Linked DNA regions of Homo sapiens: region 2 is linked to region 1. The links come from fine-mapping of genetic effects on gene expression. A gene starts in region 1. The other region holds a variant in brackets. All regions are shown on one strand. Distances are between the middles of the regions. Region 1 holds the start of TSPAN9 (tetraspanin 9). Region 2 overlaps TSPAN9 (tetraspanin 9).

Evidence for each region.
Region 2: its variant is fine-mapped to the expression of TSPAN9 in lung (TOPMed, PIP 0.92).

The regions. Positions count from the first base shown.
Region 1 is chr12:3,075,940-3,078,841 of GRCh38, forward strand. It overlaps TSPAN9 (tetraspanin 9), which reads left to right and starts at 1,440. Exons shown (of 9, transcript NM_006675.5): 1 at 1,440-1,514. RefSeq lists silencers at 946-995, 1,046-1,545.
Region 2 is chr12:3,284,646-3,287,547 of GRCh38, forward strand. It overlaps TSPAN9 (tetraspanin 9), which reads left to right. Exons shown (of 9, transcript NM_006675.5): 9 at 1-1,914. Among named protein-coding and RNA genes, the nearest start is that of LINC02827, 14 kb to the right of the region's middle. RefSeq lists enhancers at 1-81, 82-582. The variant G/A (reference allele first, on the strand shown) is at 1,534.

The sequences.
Region 1 (2,902 bases):
TGCAATGGTAGGGCACGTGGGAAGCACAGCATACAGTTTCTTTAAAATTTAAAAAAATTTCACTTTTAAAGACAGGGTCTCCCTCTACTGCCCAGGCTGGAGTACAGTGGCATGATCCTAGTTTACTGCAGCCTCCAACGCCTGAGCCTCAGCCTCCGGAGCAGCTGGGACTACAGGGGTGTGCCACCACACCCGGTTAATTAAAACATTTTTTTTTTGAGATGGGGTTTCCCTATGTTGCCCAGGCTGTTCTTGAATTCCTGAGTTCCTGAGCTCAAGCAATCCTTCCACCTGGGCCCCCCAAAGTCCTGGGATTACACGCGTGAGCCACCACACCTGGCCTAGAAGACATTTTTGATGACAGTAATGATGAGAAGAGATGGCGTTTTAGTGCTCTTTGGAAACAAGTTTAGGCCTTCTAGCTTTAAGAATCCGGGCCTATAATCCCAGCACTTTGGGAGGCAGAGGCAGGAGGATGGCTTGAGCCCGGGAGTTTGAGACCAGCTTGGGCCCAGGGAGACCACCGTCTGTACAAAAAAAATCAAAAACTTCGCCGGACGTGGTGGTGCGCGCCTACAGTCCCAACTACTCTGGAGGCTGAGGCGGGATCACTTGAGCCCGGGAAGTCGAGGCTGCAGTGAGCCGTGATCGCACCACTGCACTCCTGCCTGGGCAACAGAGTGAGTCCTTGTCTCAAGAAAAAACAAAACAAAACAAAAAGCAAAAAACACATAAAATCCAGGCCTGAAAAAGCGCCCGGGCCAGACATGCCTAGCTGGAGTTTCTCCTGCCTTAGCGCACCCCTCAGGCACACGGTGCCCTGTAGTCGCCCTTGGAGGCCGCCAGCTCCTGGGGAGGCATGGCCCTTTCTGCGGGAGGTGTCTCAGGCAGGCTCCAACACACACCCGCGCTGTCAGCATCTCGCACAGTCCGCCCGAAACACCAGGGAAGGGGTTCGTAGGTGTGGGGGTGGGGTGGCGAGGCCAGGCAGCCTGGCGCGAGGGAGAGAGCCGAGGCCTGGGCCAGGAAGGCCCTTGGGTGCCGTGTGGGCGCAGAGCCCAGGAGAGCGCACTGCCAGGCCCGGACCTCCCCGCCCCTACCCCGGGAAGAGGCCCGTTCGCCGCAGGGGGAAGGCGGGATCATAGCACCTCGGAGGAGCGGCCGGTCCGGGCATGCGGGCGGCGGGGCGGGGAGGGAGGCTTCCGGAACCCCGAGAGAGCACCCGTGCCTCGCGGGCCCCGTGCCCCGTCCCCGGGCTCCCCTTCCTCTAACGCAGGGGACCCAGCCCGGGGCAGTGCCGGGCACTGGCGCTGGCGCCCCGCTCAGCCCTGCGATCCTTCTCCGCCCCGCCCCTCCCCGCTCCGCCCCGCCCCTCCCCGCTCCGCCCCCGGGCCGCCCCGCCCCGCAGGCTCGCCATTCCCGGGCAGGCCCCGCCCCCTGTTTCCGCTGGCGGCGGCGGCGGCGGCGGTGCCGGAGCGCGAGCAGAGCGGAGACCCCCAGGTCCTGCGGGCGCGGTGAGTGCGGCCCGGGCGGCGGGCGGCGAGGCGGGTCTCGAGAGCGTGCGGAGTCGCGCGGCCTTGAGCCGGCGCCGGGCGGGCTGGGCACCCCCAGGCCGAGACCCGAGAAGGGGGAGCGGCCGGGGGCGCCCACGGGAGGCAGTGTGGGCAGGGCGGCGGTGGGACGAGAGGACGAGGAACAGAGTAGGCGCCGTGCGGGAAGCGGGCCGGGAAGGGGAGGGTGGGTGCGGGGCCCGGGCACCGAGCGAAGTGGGGTCCTCCAGGGGATGGCTCCGAGGAAGACCGTTTCAGAAAGGGAGTAACCCGGGGCCGGCAAGGGTTTCCGACTGTGTGACCCCGTGCACCGCTTGGGACAGTCCATACAAGGACCCCAGAGAGGGCCAGGGGGCCTTCGGGCAGGGCTGGGATATGGCCTGCAGCCCCCCGGCACCCGCGACCGCTCCCTGGGCCACTGCTGGAAGATCAGCACTCCGAGTGACAGGACTCTGGCACATCCCGAAGTTGGAGATCTAGCCCATCTGTGCATTCAAGTTTGGGACTTCAAAAAACTTTCTTGTGGTTTTTAAAAAAAGATCCAAACAAGAAACCGGCTTGTTGTTGTAAGAGCAATATTTGTACTTGTACATCTTGGAACTGGAGTCTTGGATCTCCTCCCTCTTTGAAAAATATACGAGTCACTGCTTCATCTTCCCCCAAATGCCTGTTTTGTCTGGGGAAGCTTGGGCTAGTATGGGATCCCCTGAGCTACCTTTTTCTCGCATCACCAAAACGGGGGGTAAGAAGGCAGGGGCTTACCTGCCTTACCTGGTAACTCTTAGTTCAGAGACCCAGTCTCTCATTATGTGCGCGTGCCCTTCTGACCTGCAGCTGTCCTTTTCCCTGGGGTGACTCAGGTATTTCCTCCTCCAGGAAGCTTTCCTGGACTAGTGGAGAAAACTGAAGACTCATGCGAGGATCCCTATATATACCTGCCAGCTCCCTTCTCTTTACTGAAAATAGCCACAGAGAATGTTGAATATATGCTTTGCTATAGAGATACGCAGCCAGCTTGCCATCATAAGTAATGGGGAGGGGAGGAGAGGGATTATGGATAATTTCAAACAATAGCCTGGACAAATCATTTATATTTAGCTAAGGAATGCAGCCAGAGAGGCAGACAATTACACCGGCTTCCTACCCTCGGCTTGGTCCTGGCATGGCTGATGCAGCTGGGCTGTGGGTTGGAGGGAGAGGATTGGGGTAGATAAAACTTGAAGTGTAATTCAGTTCTACTCTCACTCACTGAAGACGCCCTGTGTGCAAGTCCCTGAACAGGTGAGAGTAGGATTTTTTTTTTTTTGGTCTGGTTTAATCAGATTTTAATATTCTGGCAGAGCTTTTTAAAC
Region 2 (2,902 bases), 210 kb after region 1:
CCCCCTCCAAACTGCAGCTGGTCTGGCTTACTGTTTTGCCGTTCAAAAAGGTCGCGAATCCGTGGGACTGAGCACGGGGACCTCACCCGCTAGCCAGCGTCTGCTGCACTTGATCAGGTGGGGCCTTGGTGGGCGGCTGCCTTTCCTATACAGTTTGTCTTGTCACCCTGGTTTCCCACTGGGGCCAGGTCTCTTCTCCAGCCTCCACCTGCCTGTCTGATCCAAGAGCTGAGACACGGCCACCCAGCACCAGTCACTCCTCTGTTCACCTTAAGTAACACACAAATCGGGAACAGGAGGACAGAACCGTTGGCATTATCAGGATTCGTGTTTTGTGGGGGTGGGAGTGGAGAGTAGGGTGGTCTTGTGAGTTGTGCAGGGTGAAGACCGCTTCCCTGAGACAGGGGCAGTGGTGCTGATGGAATGTGGGGGAGGCCCACATTTGAGCAAAGCTGCCCTGCCCTTGTCCCCTGGCCTGGCTTCCTGGTAAGGAGTTTCAGCCGCCTCCGCAGGAACCCCCAAAGTGCAGATTCCGGAGCAGACACATCCGGGCGGAGAGACTCAGCAGACAAGTGCTGCAGTTGCACGGTGGGACCCGGGGCCTCGTGCGTTTTTTGCTGTGGGTGGGGTGGGTGGGTTGGTTTATGCCTATCAATGCAATTTTTAATTTTTGTTAATATCAACAGCAAAAGCCTAGTGCATTGGGAGATGTGCAACCTCCCTGAAAATCTTTTCTGTTTCTGGAGTACTTCAGGGGTGGCCTCTGGCCCCAGAGCCTTTGCCACAGTGCTCCCACCAGCCCCCACCTCATCCGTCTGTTTGCAGAGCCTCATCTACAGGTCCCCACGCTGCCTTCTTTACTCACTCTGCGCTTGGCCGTTTTGTTATTTGGCTTAGTCTACATTGGGCGGAAGTCTGTGTGCACAGAGTGGGTGTTCCTTCGAGCCCCTTCCACTCAGAGGGCCACACCCAGCGATGCCAGTGAAGGTGGCACAGCCTCTCTTCAGTTTCTCCTGACTGTGATCTCACTGGGGTAGAATTCCCCTGAGAGAATTCCCTCACTCACGGCTCCCTTTGCCAGAGTCAGTTCAATCAGGTCTGATGTGAGCAATTTACACACTTGTCTCAGAAAGTCCCTCAGGGTTTGTAGAGGACTGCAGGGGGGCATCCGCTGCAGACTCAGCCTTTCTCTGCAGCCATCCTGCAGTGGGGGTGAGCGGGCACAGGCTGAGAACTGCTCTTGGGTGGTGGAAGCAGGTGTCACGGTGCAAGTCTCCCCCTGCACCCCTCCCCCAGCTTGAGCCGTGTCACCCCCCTCTCCCTCCAGCATGGGCCTGTGTCTCAGGCTCTCTGGAAGGTGGCCCTGCCCCGGACCCTCTTGCAGGTGTCCTGGTTTGACTTGGAACTAGATGGCCATCTTTCCAGGCTTTGGTGGCCCAAGAGCAGTCTGGGTGGATGGAAGTGGCTGTCCCCTCCTCTCCAGCCCCTGCCCACCCACTGGTGGAGGTGCTAACTAGCAGGGACGTGGCATAG[G/A]ATGGGAGCTGGGCGTGAGGTGCTTGGGGTCCATTCTTTGTCCCTCAGCTTCTCAGAGTCCGGCCAGCCCTTGTGTTCCCGTGCCCCACACTTTCCTCCTCCCCACTGCAGTGAGTCAATAGTCCAGGGTGGGGCCTGGCCTCCCTGCCCTGATTGGGGACTCAGGAGGTGAGGCCTGGGGGGCTTCCTGCCCCCTCCTTGCCCACCTGCCTGCCCCCGGGCAGCACGGGAGGGAGAGCAGGGTGAGCACGCTTGTTGGTTTCAGATGCACTTTCTGCTTGCATTGCCGTATCTGTGCGTTCCTTCATCCTGGTCCTGGCTTTATGGAACACCATGTTTTTAGCATGTTTTTAAATAAAAACGGATAAAGTGTCAAAAGCACAGCAGGCTGTCTCTCAGTGGTGTGTTTTGTTCACTCAGCCAAAACTGTGACTTAGGTCGTGGTTGGTGTGAGGGACCCAGAGGGATCAGATACCACTCCTACCCTTCATCCAAGACACACCCCCAGGGGGACCTCATCTCTCTTTTGGGGCCCAGGTCACAGATCTGCTGGCGTGGGGAGGGTCTCTGTCCTCTCTGGGTGCCTGAGGAATCCTAACATCCCCCCTCGAAACAGGCTGGATCAGGGGGCAGTCCCAGTGCCCGAGGCCTTCTGCCTGAGAGGCTGAAGTCCTGTCTCCGTACCAATCACCCATCACACATGGCCAGTCCTGTGGCCAGGCCCCGAAGTGTATCGTGGGGCGGGTATGGAATAAGCCACTAGCAGCTTCCAGTAGGGTAAGGGGCTTCCTGTAGGGGTGGGGGCTGTCAGTTTCAGAAACAGTCTTCTTCCCAATCCCTGTGATGTTCCCGGGGTTCATTTGACCTTGATGTCTCGGACTGAGGGGGCCTCACAGTGTGTCTTGGCCTTTTCAGGGTGACTGGGACAGCCTCAAAGAAGGAACAAAATCAGGATGAGGATGGTCAGCAGGGAAGGCCATTAAAACCGCGAGCAGGAAGAGCTGCTGGCTGGGCCACTGACGTTGCCGCCTTCCTGCAGTCGAAGTCTCCCGCGGCCTTGGTTGGGGTCCTGGTGTGTGGGGTTTCCTTGGCTGTCAGTCAAGGTGACAAGTTGCAGATGAGAAGCTCAGAACTCCCCTTGCTGGTCCTCACTGTGTTCATGTCCCCAGGGTGGAGGCAGGCGTGAGGGTGAGTGTGCATGGGGGTCTGAGAGCAGTTGGAGGTTTGGAGGTGAGCATCTTGAAACCCCTCTGCCTGTGGAACTCCATCTCCCGCCTTCTCAAGGGAGTGGCCAGGTCCACACAGAATTATCCCAAAACATCAACCTCTGGGGCCCCCTCCTGCAGCTGCTGTGTCCCAGAGCCTCCAG